Linked DNA regions of Homo sapiens: regions 1, 2 and 4 are each linked to region 3. The links come from fine-mapping of genetic effects on gene expression. A gene starts in region 3. Each other region holds a variant in brackets. All regions are shown on one strand. Distances are from middle to middle. Region 1 overlaps IKZF1 (IKAROS family zinc finger 1). Region 2 has its middle 83 kb from the start of IKZF1. Region 3 holds the start of IKZF1 (IKAROS family zinc finger 1). Region 4 overlaps IKZF1 (IKAROS family zinc finger 1).

The links. PIP is the estimated chance that this variant, and not a neighbour inherited with it, causes the effect.
Region 1: its variant is the best candidate, but not a certain one, in a credible set for the expression of IKZF1 in whole blood (INTERVAL, PIP 0.82).
Region 2: its variant is the best candidate, but not a certain one, in a credible set for the expression of IKZF1 in whole blood (TOPMed, PIP 0.51).
Region 4: its variant is the best candidate, but not a certain one, in a credible set for the expression of IKZF1 in whole blood (Lepik 2017, PIP 0.61).

What each region holds. Positions count from the first base shown.
Region 1 is chr7:50,396,454-50,401,638 of GRCh38, reverse strand. It overlaps IKZF1 (IKAROS family zinc finger 1), which reads right to left. Exons shown (of 8, transcript NM_006060.6): 8 at 1-1,721. The coding sequence ends at 1,012. Among named protein-coding and RNA genes, the nearest start is that of FIGNL1, 51 kb to the left of the region's middle. The variant T/C (reference allele first, on the strand shown) is at 3,033.
Region 2 is chr7:50,218,907-50,224,107 of GRCh38, reverse strand. No RefSeq gene overlaps it. Among named protein-coding and RNA genes, the nearest start is that of IKZF1, 83 kb to the left of the region's middle. The variant C/T (reference allele first, on the strand shown) is at 2,890.
Region 3 is chr7:50,301,417-50,306,598 of GRCh38, reverse strand. IKZF1 (IKAROS family zinc finger 1) reads right to left here and starts at 1,883. Exons shown (of 8, transcript NM_006060.6): 1 at 1,677-1,883. RefSeq lists a silencer at 1,771-2,570 and an enhancer at 3,425-3,926.
Region 4 is chr7:50,328,584-50,333,583 of GRCh38, reverse strand. The region is part of intron 3 of IKZF1 (IKAROS family zinc finger 1); the gene reads right to left. Among named protein-coding and RNA genes, the nearest start is that of IKZF1, 26 kb to the right of the region's middle. The variant G/A (reference allele first, on the strand shown) is at 2,926.

The sequences.
Region 1 (5,185 bases), 95 kb before region 3:
TTGGATTTCTTCAGGAAAAGAGGCCTCTGGTACTAGATGGAACCAGCCAGGGAAGGAAGAGATTTGAAATAAAGCTTTGGTTTCTGAGGAATGTTGCCGTTTGAGAGATTCAAAAAGAAAGAAGATCCAAATTTCGGGACTGGTGTTTAAATTGTAGTGACAGATTTTGGGGGCCATTAAAGGTATGGGAGTGAAAAAGCGGGGAACAGGGCTCCCCAGATATGCCCACGGGAAGACAGTCTCCTCCTACGGGGCAGCAAGCCTCGGGAGGCTCAGGCCATCTGAGCAGCCTCCGCAAAGCCAGTGAATCCAGGACGATCCCAAAGGCTCTAGCCCGGCGTCTCCCTCCACCCAGGGCAGTCTGACAGACACGACTTTCCCCAACCAATTCATTTTCCTACGCAGAATATGACTTGAAATAGTATTTTCTCTCACAAGTGCAGCCTCTCCGCCCTAGATGCATGTAGCTCGAAGCTGGCCTGGGCACAGGTTGTTGGCCCTGCTGTGTCTTGGCACTTGGGTGGCGGCACACCTGTCCTGTCTGCTCACCTGCAGACCCACACAGCAGGGGCTGTGCTCTCTGCTTCTGGGGACTGGAAAAAGACACCTGGTGCGCGAACCCCGTGCTTAGCACAGGGTAGAGCACGCTCCTTCCCAGGCTGTGGCGTGTTTTATCTATTTCTCTCTGAAAATTTAGACTAATCGTTTGGAGAAGGGGATTCTAGGAAGCGACAGGTGAGGGAATCTCAGCCAGCGGTCTGGGGAAACATCTAGGAAGGTAGCAGTTCTGGATGCTCCCAATGCAGCCCTGCCTCTAAAAATAAAAATCTTTTCAAAAGCAAATCAAACCCCAATCAACCAACTCAAACAAAAAACAAAAAACAGTTACAAATCCAAACACAACATTGTCTGGTCCAGTCCAGTCTATGCTGCTGGCGGGAGCGAGAAGGCGGCAGTCCTTGTGCTTTTCCTGGGGTGGCTCGGGGTCTGGGGTGGGGGCGCGGGAGGGCTTTAGCTCATGTGGAAGCGGTGCTCCCCTCGCGTTATGTGCGACGAGAACTCGTACCGGTCCTGGCTGTGGTAGCCGCACATGTTGCACTCAAAAGGATCACGGAAGCCGTGGCAGCCCATGTGGATGGTGTACATGACGTGATCCAGGAAGAGCACCCGGCAGTGTTCGCACTTGTACACCTTCATCTGCTCCCCGCTGGTGCTGACCACGCGGAGCGCGTCCTGCGAGTTCTCGGAGGCGGCGCGCAGCAGGTCGTAGGCGCGGTGCTCCTCCTTGAGCGACAGCCCGTTGCGCGCGTGCGGGGCGATGTGGTTGGTCAGGTAGATGAGACCGCTGCGCTGCTCCTCGTTGTTGCTCTCGGTGTCCGTGGAGTCTTGGCAGCTGTTGCTCGGGGACGCCTCGCGCTCCGAGGGCACCAACTTGGCCTTGGAGAGCAGCAGCAGGTTCTCCACGGCGCTGTCCTGGGCCGAGTGGTTGGAGCGCGGGGTGCCCTCCGCGAGCGGCTTGTGCAGCTGGTACATCGGGCTGATGACCGGGACCACCTCGGAACCGCCCGGGGGCGTCTGCACCAGCGGGCGCAGGGACTCGGCCCCCAGGTAGTTGATGGCGTTGTTGATGGCTTGGTCCATCACGTGGGACTTCATCATTTCGTTCTCCTTCTCGTAGCTGGCGCTGCTGTCGTAGGGCGTGTCGGACAGGCCCTTGTCCCCTGTGGAAAGCAGGCGACAGTGAGTGGGGCGCGGCCACCTCCGGAACCGGTCAGGTCTGGCAGCAACAGCTGAAATCTACAACCGGGGAGGGGAAGGGGAACACGGCCTGGGGGCCCAGCACGCCTGCGGACCCCACACCTGCACACATACACACACACCTGCGGACACATCACACCTGCACCATACTGACGGGCTGGGGGAAGGCCCATGCGTCTGTCTAGGGGACACCGAGCCAGGACCTACCCATTATAAGCACTTAAGGAGATTTTGTTGGATAAATGAATACATAAATAGGGGAACCAAAGATTAGTTTAATTATGTTATTGTATTTCATTTAATATTTTAAATAGTGTATTTGAAATGATGCTTTTTCAGTAGAGTGTTCTCAGTAATTTACAACTGGCTAACTTACTATACATTTATTGAATTAAAATAGACAATAATTATATTATTATTCATTATATACAATATATTTAAAATATGTGATATGTTAAATTATTAATTTTAATAATTGTATTTAATAATTTTAATAATCTAGTGTAAAATTTAATCAAAATACATGATGATTGTATATTTTTTGTAATAAAATGACACATTTTTGACAAATAACCCAAAGGTAGATGAACTCTGTCTTGAGATGAGAGTGGAAGGGATACTCAAAAGTAATTCTCTGTAGTTGGCAGGCCCGAAGCAGGGCTCCCCAGAAACATGTGGTGGAGGGTAGGAGGCACAGCAAGGGAGCTACAGGGAAAATAGTTGCTATTCATCTGTTATTTTTTAAAAGTAATGAGAATTATTGATGTACAAGGAACTACTGTTGACGCCTCAGCAGTGATTGGGCCCTGGCCTTGAGAAACTTCTGATCTAACATCATCAGTTCATAGGAGTCCATGAGCTCATTTCCCTGGCAATGGTGAAACCAGAGCCTAGATTTGGCTTCTTCAATTAGCTTTGGAGTAAATATCTTAATACAAAAAATAAATTTTCTTGAAGACACACCTTCTCAATATGTTGGTCATAAGTTCAGTATGAAATCATGGCTTAATTAGCAAATTCATTAATTACAGTAACTGCACTCTTACTGGCAAGACTGCGGCTGTGTTCTGTTTTCAGCAGTGGTACATTAATGAGTCAAAGCACATGAGCCCATCCTTGGAATGTCTGAACGGTTTATATTTTACCACTACTCTGTATATTTCCATCCTTCAACACATCTGGACTGGGCAGAGGGACAGAACAGTGAGTAAGTGAGAATGGTCCCCATCCTTAGCAGCAGACAGCTACTAGGGGAGGGTAGGTAGAAGTTTATG[T/C]GTGATTGCATGGATAATTCCTTCCCATCTGAGAAATCCACGAAGACAAGGGGAGCGTGCCATGAGAGCATTACACAGGTTTCTGATCTTGTAAGAGTCAGCCAGATAAGGAGGGTTGATAAGGAGGGTTTTGTGTCCCAGTGTTGGGGACAACAAGAAGGAAAGTTCTGAAGGGAGAAGGGGCTGGGAGGTGTGGCAGGACCGAGTGAAGGTTGGGGAACCAGAGCCCTAGGTGGGGGCAGTGCTCGAGAGGTAGGCAGGAGGGGCAGGCAGAGGCCAGCTAGGCAGAGACTTTGTCTAAAGGAAAATGGAAACCACTGAAAGGTTTGAAGGAAGAAGTGGCCTTCTCATTCACTGTGGAAAGAACAGCTTGAAGAGGGGCAAAAGTGAGGGATAAGTCAAAACTTCCCCAATGTGCAGGTTATGGCTGATGATGGCTGGTGAGGGTGGTGGCAAGGGAAGGTCCCAACACCTTCCACGATGCACCTGACACTGAGGTCATCAGCTGGTTCTTACTAACAGAAGGATAAATTACTCTGTAATTCATACATTTACTAATAGTCCTTTTATAAAATCTGTGACCATTAAGAATTGTCCAGGAATATATGCCCCATTATACCATAAAGTACCTTTGAGTTTCATGTCTTATTTTGTAATGGATATGTATCATATAATAGCCTGGTTTCCATTCGTTTTCATCTACTGGTGGTCAGAAGTGGCACATACTCTGATTAGAGAAAAAAAACTTGTGCATGGCCAGTTACGCCCTCCCAGAAACAGAACAGGATGAAAACCCTATGAAGCTGATGGTAGGGACCAAAGAAGTGGTGTTTCTCTCCATTAAAGGTCAGAAAAAGTAATTGTATAGCACTGCTGAAACCACACAATTTTTTTGTTTCTGTTTTTGTGTTGAGCAGCTAAATGTCTTGTTACACTAACTCCAGAGAAGAATGAATCCATTCTAGTTTGTATCCAAGTCTATCCCTCTACCAAATCAAGGCAAGAAAAGGAGGGGAATGGACTTTGTAGCCAATTTTGCTAAATATAAAAGTCTTTACAGCCCCACCAAAAGGGTGCTTTCCCACCTAATCATCCTGTCTCTCCCCAAGTCATGGTTCTGTGGTTTCCCAAGCAACCACTGAAATCTGTTGTTTTCAAACTTGGTATCACAACAAATGGGTGTAGGAAAAAAATCAACATATATGCCAGATTACTGTGCCACATGAAAATTACCATAGAATTTCTCTTCCTTAATACCCAACAAAACAAGAAAAATAAAAACCTATAAATTTCTCTTAACAGCAATCAGCTAAAGGAACATGTCATGTATAGTCATAGAATATTATATATACACATAATTATATATAATATGCATTTCATTATGGCGTGTGTGAGAACACACATACACTCAAAGACTAGAAAGAAACAGAAAATTCTGACATGAGATGTAGGGCAAAGCTTTGCTGCTAATCTCATTTCCAAATCTTTAGGTGTGAGTCAAGAATAACCTCAGAATTTTCCCTCATAGCCTCATATCTATAAAGACATGATTCAGATAGGTATCTTTTCCCTGTTCTGATCAGAAAAGCATTTGAAACCTTGGCTGACAAGAATCAGATGAACATGGAGAAGTGAGCCCCTGCGGGCTCCCTGGGACAGAAGCAAAGTCCTCTGTGGTCTACACTGAAGGGGAAGATGGCCCAAAGCCCCAGAGAATCTCCTGTGGGGATGAAAGCATTCCCCAACTAGGTACAGTGCTGATGGCTTAGGGTATTTAACTAAATTTCAGATGAGGGAGAGAGAGCAAAGGAAAAGTATTTTAACAAAGGCTGCACTTTGCCTCACCAAACTCCTCCAACCCCATCTTTGGCATTCTTTCAGGATTTAGAAAACCCAATAGCTCTCACAGGAAAAAAAAATATAGTGGGAAGAAGGCTGAAATGTCAATCAAGCTATATCAGACCAACTAGAATAAGCAAGATGAAAAGAAATGTCAGGGTTACTAGGAAAATATTTTCTAGAAATACAGGGGAAGAAAGGAAGTAAAACACAGACCATAGAGTCCCTCCTAGGGGAAAAAATCGTTAATTCCAACAAGAGAGGAAATGCCTCATAATTGCTTCATAACATGGAATCAATTTTAAAAGTATTCA
Region 2 (5,201 bases), 83 kb after region 3:
ATATATTCTGGGTGTTAGACCCATGTCAGGTGTATGATTTGGAAATATCTTCTTCCATTCTCTGAGTTGTTTTCTCACTCTCTTGATTATGTCTTTTGATGGACAAAGTTTTTTATTTTGACTAACTCCAATGTATCGATTTATTTATGTCACCTGTGCTTTTGGTGTCATGTCTAAGAAACCTTTGCCAAATCCAAGGCCCTGAAGAGCCACTCACATGTTTTCTTCTAAGAGTTTTATTGTTTTAATTCTTACATTTAGGTTGTTGATCCATTTTGAGTTAATATTTGTATATTTTATGAGGTAAGTGTCCAATTTTATTCTTTTATGTATGAATATCCAGTTGTCCCAGCACCATTTATTGAAGAGACTCTTCTTTACCAAATGAATAATGTTGGCACTGCATTGTACAACCAATTGACTATGAATGGTTTTATTTCTGGGATCTCAGTTCTAGTTCATTGATTTATTTGACTATCCTTATGCCAGTATCGCATGCCGGTATCACAGCTTTGAAAATGAAAATTTGGGCTGGGCACGGTGGCTCAGGCCTGTAATCCCAGCACTTGGGGAGGCTGAGGTGGGTGGATTACCTGAGGTCAAGAGTTCGAGACCAGCCTGGCCATCATAGTGAAACCCCATCTCTACTAAAAAATACAAAAAATTAGCTGGGTGTGGTGGCAGGCACCTGTAATCCCAGCTACTTGGGAAGCTGAGGCAGGAGAATAGCTTGAACCTGGGAGGCAGAGGTTGCAGTGAGCTGAGATTGCACCATTGCACTCCAGCCTGGGCAACAAGAGTGAAACTCTGTCTAAAAAAAAAAAAAGAAAAAAAAGAACAACAACAAAAAAAGAAAATGAAAAGTGTGAGCATTTCAACTCTGTTCTTTCTCTTCAGGTTGGTTGGCTATTCAAGGTCCCTTGTAATTTCATGTGGGTTTCAGGATTGACTGTTCATTTTCTACAAAAAAGATTGATGAAATTTTGATAGGGATTGAGTCTATAGATCATCTTGGGGAGTATTTTCATTTTAATGGTATTAAATCTCTCAATCCATGAACATAGTATGTCTTCCTATTTATTGATGTCTCTTTTTTTAAATTAAGGTTTTGTGATTTTTCAGCATGGAAATATTGGTTCTTCTTTGTTAACTTTATTTCTATGTATTTTATTCTTTTGAATGGTATTGTAAATGAAATTTTTAAAACAACGTTCAAATTGTTTATTGCTCATGTATAGATTTGCAACTGATTTTTGCATATTGGTGTCATATCCTACAACCTTGCTGAACACATTTATTAATTCTATTTTTTTAGTGTGCTCTGTAGCATATTCTATATATAAGATCATGTCATCTGGAAATAAATATAGTTCTACTTCTTCTTTTCCAGTCGAAAAGCCTTTTATTTCCTTTGCCTGACTAATTTCTCTGGCTGGAACTTCCAGTACAATGTGGAATAGAAGCAGTGAGAATGAATATCTTTGTCTTATTCCTGATCTTAGGGGAAAACAATAAGTCATTTTCTATTAAATTAGCTGTGGATGTTTCATAGATGTCTTTTATTAGGCTCAGGAAATTTCCATTTTTTTCATAGCTTTTTGAGTGTTTTTATCATGAAGGGGGTTAGATTTTTGTCAAATGTCTTTTCTGCATTAATTTAGAGGATCATATGGTTTTATCATTTATTCTGTTGATATGTTATTTTACATTAATTAATTTTCAGATATTAAACCAACCTTGAATTCCTGGAATAAGTTCCACTTGGTATGCATACACATGGTATACAGTTTGTGTTATATGTTACTGGATTTGGCTTGCTAGTATTTTGTTGAAGGTTTTTATATCTATATTAATATGATATATTGATTTGTTTTCTTGTGATATCTTTGGTATCAATAGGAAGTTAAGAATTTATAAGCGGCAAGGAGTAGGGGCAGATTGGAAGTATTCCAAGTCTCCTAACTAACTAGGGAAAATGTTTCAAGTCACACAACAGTGCAAAAAGAGCAAGAAAGAGTATACTATGTTTTCTGTTTATCTTTGACACTTACATTTAGGGCTTCCTTAATCTATTTTATCCCATTTGTGAGCTTACTTATTGAATTGGCTAAAGAGACAGGAACAAAGCTTTATAGCCATGAGAGAACTGCTGTAATCTTGGTATCATGGATGGAATGTGCCTTTGAATAGACTTGATTTCTCTTACCTCTTTGTTTCTCTATATTTAAGGGATGAGCTATGAAAAGCCTATTAAAAATAACATGAGCCAGTCTCATTATGCTTGGCTGAACTTAGATTCCAGTAAATGTTTGTGGATTCCTTTTCTAATCACTACATTAACTGGAATTAATAACTGAGAAACAAAATACTACTACTCCCAATTTTTTTTAAGTTGTGAGTGTATGGCATTATTCATTTCATCTCCTCCCAGCAACTTGTGTTTATGCACACACACACACACACACACTCCCCTGCCCCATGCAGGTATGAATATGTGTGTATATGCATCTCTGTGCTTATATGATTAAACATGACTCTACTTTTGAACATTCAGTGAAAATTAAGAAATAATTCATACAGATGATATAGGATGGCTTAAGCCTAAAGCTATCATTCTGGGTTAAAAGTAAAATAGTACATGCAAATGAATTTCCTATCATAAGTTTCTTATTTCCAATTTTCACAGCAGCTCTGACATAGGTTTGAGGGCTGACATTTCATCCTTGGCTGTGCAAAGTTCCCAGATCATGACGGTTTGTTGCTGGGAGTCCAGAGCAGAACTGGAGGAAAGGTGCTTCCACTGCTTCTTCCCAGAGAGGGAGGGGCTGGGAGCTCCTTGCCACAGGCTGACCTCTGTCCCCTCCCTTGTTGAGCTGGTGGTTGCCCAGT[C/T]CCTGCAAGTGTTACCTCATTTCCTCTATTTGGAGGTCCTCCTCTACCTCTTCCCTAATTCATCTCCATGACGTGTCTCAAACTTTTTTGCATGAAGTTGTCACTAATTCACTTCACTCACTCGGATCACTCCTTTGGGCTCCTCTATCTTGAGATAGGTCAGATGCCATTTACAGAAGAAACTCCATCTCCAGCCACGTAATGAAGTAAAGAGATAGTCATAGGTGGTGCTTAGTCTCCCCACTGGGGTAAGAAAATGGAGGCTGGAGGAACCCACAGGGCAAGGATGCTGTCAGGGCAGGGGAGGCTGGGCACAAGTGTCCAAGAGCACAACAATCTCAATCTTGTTCAGGGAAAGTTGTCAGCTGTGGGAGTGGAAGTGGGGTAGGCAGGTGGTGATGGGATCCCAGTGGTAGATGGAGTGTAGACCCTGAGCATATTGGCTAAATGATGCCAAGCAGTATGGAACCACTTAAAAAAATGGTTCTTGGAGCCTTGCCACCTGGTAGGGTGTTCAGAAGCTGGACTTCAATATTGAAAGCAAGGCATTTGGAGGACTAAATGGAGACAGAAAAGGGCACTTAAAGTCCTTTCCATAGACTAGGGCATGCACAGGACAGGGAGAGTTGGTAATTGAGGCACAGAACAGGAGCTCCCTGGTTAGCCACGTAATAAGAGTGATGATATTAGGTTCTGCCTGTTGAATAGAGAGAAGGGGATGGTTGCAAAAGTTTAAGTAATTGCAACCTCAGTCAAAACAGATTCAGGAACTAACTGTGGGAGAGGCAGTGAGCATGTGGGTATGGGTGATCCCTTAACTGAATTGTAAGAAAGTAGTGGGAGAGATCCAGGGTGAGGAGGTTACAGTGCCATGCCAGGAAAGGAGACCTGCTGATTGGGCCACTCGGTAGTTAGGTGAGTAAGCCAGGTCAAGGGCTTACAATTTTTCAGAATAGAGAGGATCAATTTTGTAAGGGCATCTTGAAGTGATCACATTCTCAGAAACAAGCCCATGGTAGTCAAACTCACATGATGCCAAATTATAATCCAAAAATAATCCTTTTGTGAATTTACCATAAGAATCATTTCTTTCTATTGATATTGACATATGTGACCCAGGGTACCACTTCCAAATCAGTAACTATTAGGATATGATTGGAGCACAGGATGGTGAAAACTCCCAGAACACTTCTAGGTACTATTCAGGTCTCTTTAATGCCAGTGTGGGCCCAGTCCCAAATTTGACAAGCATCACTCATGGCTTTCTTCTCCTCCCTTTTCTAATTCAGATTCTTTCTACCACCACCCTCTCCTCAGGTCTGTCTCTATCATTGATGGCACTACTCTTTCTTCATTTGATTTATGTGTGGTCTTATTCTCTCTTGCTTTGATTTAGGAGATACTGCTTTTCTAAAGACCACCACAGAATGCCACTTTCTGCATTGCTTGAAAATTCTGGTAACTGAACTTAGAAGCTCATCTTAGGTGTAAGAACAAACTCTTTTAACTTCTCTCTGTGGGCCAAACAGGCAAAATGAGACAGCCTGTGTCCTTCCAACATTTTAGATCCTTAGTCATTCTGATGAATGAGTGGATGGAGAGATGGACGAAGAGCTCACAAACTCAGAAACAACCAGAGGTGTAACATCTACTAGTCTTTTTGTCTTTCATGAAATCTCACCTTCTCATTATTTTCCTTATCTGTTTGATTATCACAATTGAGCACTTATTCCTAAGCACTATTGCTTATTATGCCTCTTAGGGTTTCTACTCCAGAGACACACAGCCTCTTCCTGACCTGGGAATGTACCACCACTTGGTGCTGAATTGTGACCCCAAAGTGCTCAAGGACCCTCCCCAGGAAGGCAGAACACATGCTTAAACCTGGGACTCTTGAGAAAATGCACATTCTGATTCTGTACATCTGAAGTGGGGCACGAGGATCTGATTTCTACCAAGTTTCCAGGTGGCACAGGTGCCACTTGTTCCTGGACCTTGAGTAACAAGGCCCAAGTGGTAAAATCAAGGGCTTGGAGCTTAACTCTCCTGAGTTGGAATCCCATTTTCCTCCATTATCAGCTTCATGACCTTAGACAAATTCTTCAACTTCTCTGAGCCTCAGTTTTGTTTCTGAGCATGGGGTTGCCACTTGGTTGCCAGGTTCTTGTGAGGATGGAGGTCACGTATGTTCAGTGCCTCTGCCAGTGTGTGCCACCTACAGCCCTCACAAGGCCCTTCCCTTCAAGCCCCATCTGAGTCCCTCCTCCACCCAACGTCTGGCTTCTCTATCTGGAGGATCCTGGAAGGACAAG
Region 3 (5,182 bases):
TCAAACCTAACACATCCAGACTTTTATCTGCAGCCCTTGTGGTCTCCTGGAGACCCTGAGGGTGGGTGATTATTGCTATGATGTTTCTGCATTAGGGGGGTGTGTAGTTTTCCAAGAGGTACCACTCTAATTAGAACACTGATGAATTAAACAAGTACTGGAGAGTTTCTAAACTCCTTCCTTCAACTCTCACCGTGAAACAAAAGGGGAAGAAAACATGACCATTTAGTTCAATAAAATGTTCTGGTCACCAGCTCTGATTGACTGTGAGACTTAAGAGTCACGTTTTTTTTCATGTAAAAAATGTATGAAATATGTTCATGGTGAAATTGGAAATCAGATACATTCCATCAAGCAAGAATAGTGTAGTATTTTTAATGTGACATCATTATTTGTATGTGTACACATTATTTCTTTAACTTGTTCTGCATTTTACAAGATGCCAGCGTAAGAAGGTGAATCTTCTTGTCATGAATATTTGCCTCGTGTACATTTTAAGCCATAGCCCAAATGATCTGATTTGTCACGGAAATAATTCTGACACATTCTAATATAAATAATACTGAAATTGTTACTTTTTAAAATTCCATATAAAAGATGAGTACAATAAAACTCATTGAACAAACATCTTCAAACAAAGAAATAAACTCAAGAGGACCCAGGACATTTCTATGTGGGTCCCCCCCACCCCTCGACTCATAACCAAATTGAACCTGGCCTTAAAAGCATTTGAATGTCTATGAAAGTTTAAATATCATACGCAGTATTTTCAAATTCCATAAATTTTCCTCTTTTAACAGAAGTTGATGGGACTAGTAAGGAGACATTTCCTCAACACCATTTTGTCTGGAATTTTAAAACAAGGTATCTCAAAGCTGAAATATACTGCCTGCGGCGCAGTGGGAAATTGTGAGTGGGTAACCTAAGCAAAGCGCACCGCATTGAAATTCAGTCTGGGTGGGCTGCAGTCCCTAGAGAGAGGGAAGCTGCATTTGAAAGCTGTGCCTGGTCAGACCCTATGGAATCGCTACGGTTTTCGGTCATTAGATGCCTCCAAATTAGAAGGAAAAACAAGCCCTCACGAGGTTCCTTAGGCATCAGCAGCGATGCTTGACAAATATTTAAAATACATTTCAAATATAACCGCAAGTAACCTGATGCCTTAATATTACTAAGGGTTTTCCTGAGAAGGTTTGGTGACTTGAGCGTCAAACCTGCGGTCAGCAAAAGGACTAACTTTTCAAAGCCGGGATAATTCCTCTCTTGCAGAAATTAAGTTCAGACTCGATCTCATCATATTTATAGTATAAAAAGAAAGCTCCCGGCTCAAATATAAGGAAAACTCTTTACACACGACTTTATAAAGGCTGACTTCCGTGGGTATATGTAGGTCTACATAAATTTAAATATGGTTGGGAGCTAGAACTCCTCTCCTGGTGACAGCGGGGCTGCTCAGAAGTGTCCCATGTCGGCCTGGTCCTGCACCTGCTGGCACAGTGCAGAGCAACAGACGCTTGACAGAAGTGAACTCTCTCACTGTCCTCAGAAAAGAGAGGCGGACCTGAGCGACACCAGGGTCTACCAACCTTACCGCTTTTCTTTACTGTGTTTTTTTTTTTTTAAATTCACCAGTTACCCCAAGTTTTCCTATTGAAATTCAATTTGAAAACACTCACGTGGATTTGTGCGTCGCGCTTTGGGGCCAAGACTGATCCTCGGGTGCGAAGAGCAACCTCGGAGCCGGGGCTCCCTCTGCCCTGCCAGGCTTGCCCGCCTCGCCGCGGCCGAGCGTCCCGCCCAGGCTGGGATGCGCCGCGCGGGGACCCAGGGGGCTTGCCGCAGTCACCGCCCCGGGCGCGGGCCGCGCAGTCACTTGTTAGAGTGTCCTGCTAACTTGGCCGCGGAGCTCTTCCCAGCTTTCTTTCACAATGACTTCCTGAAGTTGCTCACTCGCATTGTTCCCCATTTCTCCGCCACACTCCCCGCCCCCAGCCGGCTCAGACCAGGCTTTCGCGCTCCCGGCCGACCGGCTGCCCCGCGCGCACAGCGCCGCCCGCGGGCCCCGTACCTGGCCCCCTCCGCGCCGGCCGCCCCCGCCGCGCCCTTGCGTTGCCACCAGCTGCCGCCCAGAGCGGCGGGTGGCCAGAGCGCGCGCCCTGCCACCCCGCAAACTTTGGGGTGACGCACGCTGGCGGTCCCTGCTCGACCTGCCCCGCAGCCGGCTCGGCCCCGCGCGCACCTCTCGGCCGCCTCCCGGATCGCTGCTCCGGTACAGGGAGCGGGGCGCGCAGAAGGGCGCAGAGCGGGACACGGAGAGGGTGCGTCGTCCCGTCCCCGCCCCGTCGCCGAGTCCCCCGGCTCGCGCGGCGCGCGTCTCAGCCGCAACTCCGGGCCAGAGGGGCCGCGCACGAAAACTTTGCAATCGCGCCGGGCTCCGGCTCAGCCCCCAAAGGCCGCCGGGGCGGCGGCGGGTGCGGGCCGTACCTGCTGGCGCCGCCGCCGGCTGCAGCCCGCTCGCCCGCGCCGGGCCCGCTCGGCGCGCCGCCGCCACCCCCGCGCGCACCGCGCCCGGGCCCTCCCCTCGCCGCCGCGCTTCCTCATTCCAGCGCAGCATCGCGCCGCGGCCCCGCACGGGATGCGGCGGCCGGCGCTGTGTCCGCGGGCCGGGCAGCCCGGCTCGGCCGCGGCGCTGCGGGACCCGCGCGTAACCCGTGGGGGCGCGGCGCGGGCGACACGTGCGGGCCGCCAGGAGGGGGAGGGGGACGCGCGCCGCCGGGCCCGCCACCCTGCACCCGGGGCCGCTGGTCGGTCGGGGCACCCTCACGCTCGCCCCGCTGGCGAGACTGGAGGGACTCGGGACATCGTAAAGCACTTTCCCCAGTGTCTGGGAGCGCCCGCTGTACGCTCAGCTTCACGTCCCTGGAACTGGGGCCCCTTGGCTCCCGGGTTCAGGCTCCGGCCCCAGGATGCGAGTGCCCACCCGAGGGGGTGGGAAAAGTTGATCCTCCGCAAGGGAGGGGAAGGTGCAATTCATTTTCCCAGACAACCAATGGAATACCTCTCGTCTCTCTTCCCTCCCACCTGCTCACGGCAGAAGTTAGGATGGCGCCTTCCATGTTGGCCTGGGTGCACACACAAGTGCGTGCGGAAGGGTGGCTGCAGGCGGAGGTGACAGCGAAGCAATCCCGCAGCCCGCTCGACGGCTCTTTGCGTCTCAGACCTCTCCCTGGCGTGTAAGACACCGTGTGTCTCCGTAAAACGGGAATGCCACATCTGACAGCGCACCCCTTCGCCCTACGGGGAGCCCCTCACTCTAATTAGCCGGGCTCCACCCGAGCAGGAGCCAGCAATGTGTTCAGCTTGAGCAGGAGAGAAAAAGTCATGAATTCCACAAATGCAGCCTGGGCTCCCGCCAGGCGCTAGGGGAGGGGACCCAGAGGAGTGAGATGCGCCTCCTGCCCTTCCAGACTTGTAGGAGCCACCAGGAAGGCACAGAATAAAAATCCCGGGCACCCCTGTGAGGAGGAGCGCCCTGTGAAGAGGGCCGAGAACGTGCTCCTGCTTGGGCGCGGTGGTTCGGGAAGGCGTGAAGACCCATAGGGAGAGCGATGAAAGACCAAGGGAGCCTCCTCAGGGTAGGACATGCAGGCGAAGAAGGCACAGGCCTTCCGGGTGGAGGACACAGCCGGGCAAGGGAATAAGCAGGAAATGTCCCTTCAGGGCAGTTGAGTGTGGCTGGAGACCATCGCTGCCGGGGAAGGTCTTGGCCTGGCCCAGGAGGCCTCCAAGTCGGGGGCCAGGGCACACCAGAGACAGGATCTGCCTCTGCTGCCTCTGGGAGAAGGCCCTTTACCCGTGAATCACAAACAGCGTCTATCCACATTCTCCCTGAGCGCATATGCAGCTCTTACTACAGTACTCAGTGTGTCCTGAAGGGCATTCCGCTGGGCAAGTCTGAGCCAGTTAACTCACTGCTACAGCCCAGAGAAGGGGAAGGTAGTGAAAGGTCCATTGATTTACCTTCTAGTCCTCTCCTCCACTGCGTGACCTTGGGCAGGTTATCCAAACTCCTGAGCATCATCTTCCTTGTCTATAAAAAGAATACATGCCACCAATCCTAAAGACTCCTTACCTGGATTAAATGAGGCAATAAACATAAGGTACAAGGCCCAGAGGGAGGCCAACAATGTTGTAAAGGGGACACGGGACACCTCTAGTTCTTGGATGCAGAAGTACCTTTAGCCGCTGGTACGTCTCTCTAAACCTGTGCCTTGGTCTTCAGGAGTGGACCAGTGGACCGAAACATAGGCATCTCACCAAGGTGTAGCCCACTGAGGCAGGAGCATGTGGGGCTAAGAGCCCAGATAGTTTGGGCTTATGAATCTGACTGAGGTCCTTAATCTCTCAAAGCCTGAATTTCCCCATCTGTAAATTGGTGGTGATAATATAACCCTCCTGGTGGGGTTGTTTGTGGGTTAAGGAGATCACATATGGAAGACCTTGCCACATGCCTGACAGAGAGGAGTACTTTCCAAGTAAGAACAGTTATTCCCTGCTAGCCCAACCAATGTCCCAATGAGATGAGGAGTGCACTGTGAAGAGTCAGGCTCCTTGGCTGGGTGCAGTGACTCACACCTGAGTTTGGAGCCCAAGGTGGGAAGATCACTTCAAGCCAAGAGTTCCAGACCAGCCTGGGCAACAAAGCAAGACCCTGTTTGTACAAAAAAATTTTAAACTTTAAAAATCAAACCCCATTTGTATTAAAAATTTAAAAATTAGGTGTTATGGTATGCACCTGCAGTCCCAACAACCTACTTAGGAGGCTGAGGCAGGAGGATCCCTTGAGCCCAGAAGTTTGAGGCTGCAGTGAGCCATGATTGACACCACTGCACTCCAGCTTGGGCGACACAGCAAGACCCTGTCACAAAACAAAACAAAACAGCAGTCAGGCTGCAGGTACCATGCCTTACCCTTGCCCCCAACCGGGTGGAGTTGAAGGAAGTCAAGCTTATATTATTATAACCTGGGGTCTGTGGATAGACTCAGAGGGACCAGAGAGGTGATATAAATCAAATGTTCAAACCCTTAGGGACAACAGTAAAATGCACAATGGATGGGAAAACATATAGGGAGAAATTGGAACATGTAAAACTGTTTTTTTTCATATTATGTCTAAAGTCAT
Region 4 (5,000 bases), 27 kb before region 3:
GATGCTGCTAGATAATATTTCTCCCCAGCTAAAATGGGGTTTATCGGTTCAGAAGAGATGCATTTCGCAGATAAAAACAACTTCCTCTAGCTGCTGATTAGATAAGCAGGCTCCGCATCCGTGCTCAAAAGCCTGCTGCCCAATCTCCAGAGCGGCTGCTTTCTTTCCATGGTGAAAGCTGTCCCCAGCACCGCTCCTTCCCTCCCAGAGTGTAGAGGACTGTTACCACCATTTGTCTACCCACCCCCCTCCCCCGACTACCGTGCTGGTCTTCTGCCTGAAACTGTAAAATGAAGGGGAGATTTGGCACCAGAATAGCCAATTTAAAATATGGTAATCCTCTTACAATTCCCACTGCAGTCTTAGAACTCATGGCTGAGTAAAGAAATTTTTACTTCAATTGAATGAATAAAAAAGATTTATGCTTTTACACACTCAATCATTTGTTCTGGAGTCCAGAGGGAAAATACCTAGATTTCTTTTCTACTTTTTTTTTTTTCAATTAGGCTAGGGTAAATCAAATTCTGTTCAAACTATTCAACATGAAGGACCTAAGTTGTGCTGATTCAGTTTCTATCTCTCAGTGCTGCCAGGGAGCCTAGAGCCTATGCCTCTGAACACCACACTGTGAGATGCAAGCTGAAATAAACCACTCATGAAACCATGGCGATCCCCTCCCAACTTCAGGAGTTGGCTGCTCCAGTGCACAGAGCCAGAGAAGCACATTCTGGAATGTACCAGGGCATATAGAAATATACCTTATCTCCCTATATTCAAACTCATGTGTCCTCCCGCCTGAATAACTACTGCCTGAGGTTGTCCCGATTATCAAGCCAGGTAGCAAGTCATTTAGTAAGCCCTGTCCCAGGCCCATATGGGCCTCAATCCTTTGGCCTTCCACGGATTCAACCAACCCATCTCCACTTACATCAATCATGGTCCCAGTTCAGTCCTACAGCATTCCTGTGCCTCTGCCCTGGGTTTTTTCTTCAATTCTACTCTAAGCCCTAAATTTGCTTGTCCTCTTTCTCAGGGGTGGCCATCCCGTTTTCTAGCCTGCAATCTTTCTTCTCTGTCCTCTGGTCTTTTGCTCCTCTGTTCCACCCACCCAAACGCCTCCCCTGCTGCCTGATTTCATGGGGGAGGAATGCCCTTACTCACACCTCCAGACCTGTGGGCTTGTCAATAGAATCCTAGTGGCTGAGGACTCTTGGTTAATTTAGGACACGGAAATGTGTACAAGAGAGAAGTCAGTAACTGGCAAAAATGTATGTATAAAGGAGGAGGAAAAAAATGCAAGGATTACTGAATACGGGAAGAAAATAACTAAGTTTTTACTTTTCTCACACAAAACACTTATCTGCTCTCCAGACCCCAACCCTGACATAATTCCTAAACAAAAAACTTTTAAGAGCCCCTGCTCAAGAGTTTTCAGAACAAGTCTCAATTCATTTTTTTACTTCTCTAGCATGTGTGCCATGGCTGACTGAGTAAATCTGGGGTTGCCTGAAGAGGTCACTGAGTGCATCCTCGGCTTTAAACAGTTTCATACACAACCACTTCAGAGAGGTGAGAGTTCTCTAGTTTTTAAAAAGACCACTTCAGAAGAACAAGCTACAGTCTCACTAAATAGACCATTCTGATGACTAAACTCTCCTTGCCAAAAGGAGAGTAAAGACCACATCTCTCCTTTAAGTCTAACTTAAATTCTTCAAGCAACACTTTAAATCCTTTGTTTCATTTTCTTCAGACCGGGAAGAAAATGGAGGCCAACTGAGGGCTGCAGGGCTGCTCTGCCCTCTGGCTCTGTCTCCTTCTCCCCAAACTTACACACAAACCTAGAATGTTCCTTCCACACTGAATGAAGCAATGAGGTGTGAAACCATTATTTGTTTATTCTGGGAGTGACTCACCAATCAGTATAACTTTGCACCCTCCTCATAGGGAACTGATTTCCACCATTCCCATCAATTTGTTTATTAATATGGTCTGTTATCCTTGTTGAGATTAGATTTGTCTAAAACTGAAGGATGCCAGTGGTCATAACAGCTCACAGCTTTCCAAAAGTGTTCCTTGTCACTTTCTAAAGCAGACACTCTTGCAATCTATTATTAGCAAATAATTTCCCACTTTTTTTTTTTTTTTGCATCTTTTAGCTTCTCACCATTTCTCCTTGAAATTTCAACAGTGGCAGCTCGACTTGAACTTGAGTCAGGTGGCGGCCAGCACCCTTACTCTGTCCTTTAGTCTTGCCCTATTCTAACAAATTCTTCCTTTCTCTTTTGGCTGTTTTCAGTTTGTTTATTCTTTGGACCATTTTTTTTAAAGTAAGAAATCCCTCTTCTATCCTTGGTGCTGGTCATCTGTTCTCTCCCTTTTCCCAAGTGAAGCTACGATAGCTTCATTTACCCTTCTTGTAAATCTTTGAAAGTTCTATTTTGCACAAGTTGCATTTCTTTTTTCTGTCCTTTTTACTTTGTGTCTTTGCTACTCTGTCTTCAACAAATTATGTCTATATATGTTCCATCTAACCCTCAAGGCCATTCTGTGATGCAGGTTCAGTTACTATTGCCACCTTCAAAAGAGGAAAGTGAGGCTCAGAGAAGAAAAGCCTTGCCAGAAGCTCCAGGCCAGGGAGGAGAGGGCCTGGACCTGTCCCTTCTGAGGTGTGCCTTACCCACAGGGCACTCTCCGCCCCTGCTGCTCACCCTGCATTTCAGCAACTCCATTTCCTCCTCTCGGCCCCACTGCTTCTGTCTTTTCATTTCCTGCTGTGCACTCCTTACAGTCCTTTGCACTGATGACTTATTCCCATGGAATAATGTGATGAAATATGGTACCCAGGTTATTCCCTTTATCCACGAATTCCCCTACCTTTTTATATTGTTTCCTAATGTTCTCTACATACTTCATTTATTTAATGCT[G/A]TACACTACAAATTAATGAACAGCCTGTCACCACATATGAAAGCTGGCTGGTTTCCTTCCAGAACCATGGAGGGTGGTCTCTAAACTCAGCTCTGTGAAGAGCCCTCTCTTCCCTCCATGTCTCCTTGGGCACTTCGGTCTTGTGGAATCCTCTCCCTCCTTCACTTCCTCTTCTCAAGCCTCTCCTTTGTGTCGTGCCTGGTTTGTCATGTAGGCTTTTGCATCTTTTTTGCTTTCTTTACAGTAACCTATCACTCCTGTGGCCTCTAGCCCCACTGAGGAGCATTCAATCTCCCAAATCATCTCAGTGCCCACGTCACATGGCTGTTCCCGCCTGTCCACAGGGCTGCATCAACTGCTATTTACAAGCAAAGCAAAGAGGTTTTCTAGGGTTTTTAAATTTCACAATTCTGAAATCATATTTTCTAAATTACATCCTGAAGGAAAAGTAGACTGAAAATCATGTCAAACATGATAAAGGGCAGGGCCAGGACCCATGGGCTATGACAAACCCGCCCCTGACTCCAAGGTGACACCTGTGCTGGGGGCAGCTGGGACCGAGGGCAGGACTTTGAACCAAAAGACAGCTCTGGGAACCCATCAGTAATGCCAACCAGATACTGGGTGATCTCCCACCCAGGAAAACCCACCAACAATATGACGTCCGTAAGGGACAGGATACTGACACTGTTTTGAAGGCACGTGTGCTATTCTTCACTCTCCAGGAATCGGCCTGACTTTCAGTTCTCTAAAGATGCCCTAGCCACGATGGCTCACAGCCTCTAAGGGCAGCTGCAGGGATTCCAGGGAGAGCCCATCTCTTTCTCCACAGCGACCCGAGCTGGCCTCCTCACTCTGACATCCAGGCTCTCTGTTCATTTACATGGTTAATGGATCATTTCTTCTGGTTCAGTCCCTGAGCCTCTGTGTTCTTGGGCAGGGTGTGAGCATCTGTTTGCTCCTGTGTTAAGCAGGAAGAACAGTACCCTTGGCGCTGGGTGCTTCAGGGACTAAAAAAATCAGGGAACATCACCACCCAATGACTATTCCTGTGCCACTTTTGCAAACTTTTATCATATCTATGTACTACTATTGACTTGATGTTTTTATTTAAACTGATTTTTTAATTTATATGAATGTGTTTTGAAAGGAACCCTCGTAGTGGTACAGTGCATGGTAAAACCAGTATCACTTGCAATACATAGAAGACAATCTCAAAAATAAATACATAAATTAAAATGAAACATGATCCTTTGCATCCCAACTTTGGAAAACCCTGAAATGATATATGTATCTTTCTTTGGTAGAATAGAGTAGATAATTCACAAGTTCATTTCTCTTCCCCTCTACTTTCCACATATAGTAGCCATTTTCCAATAGGGTAAAATAATTCATAAATGTACTTGTTTTCTGGATTCATCTACACCAAATGGCTTTAGCCACCATCTTTATCTGTTTGTGCCATTAACTGTGCTGCTGAGTTAAAAAAAAAAAGAACCATTATACCTAGTCCACTTGGTTTCTAAGACACATAAAAAACATACAAAATATGTTTTCTTTACTTTTTCTTTTTTTTTTTTTTTTTTGAGATGGAGTCTGGCTCTGTCATCCAGGCTGGAGTGCAGTGGCGCAATCTCGGCTCACTGCAAGCTCCGCCTGCCGGGTTCACGCCATTCTCCTGCCTCAGCCTCCCGAGTAGCTGGGACTACAGGCGCCCACCACTACGCCCGGCTAATTTTTTGTATTTTTAGTAGAGACAGGGTTTCACCGTGTTAGCCAGGATGGTCTCGATTTCCTGACCTTGTGATCCGCCAGCCTCGGCCTCCCAAAGTGCTGGGATTACAAGCTTGAGCCACCATGCCCGGCCCAAAATATGTTTTCTATACATGTAGATAAAATTCAGTTATCACATTTTCCCATTATTGCATTAGGATGTCCTATAGACATACAGTTGTGATTCTCATAAGCCTGAGAATTTTACATACATGTTCCCTCCTTGGCTATGGGGGCTTATGTAGCTGACCCACATTGATCCAGTCTACCTCATTTTACCTGTATGTCCTTCATATTCTTTT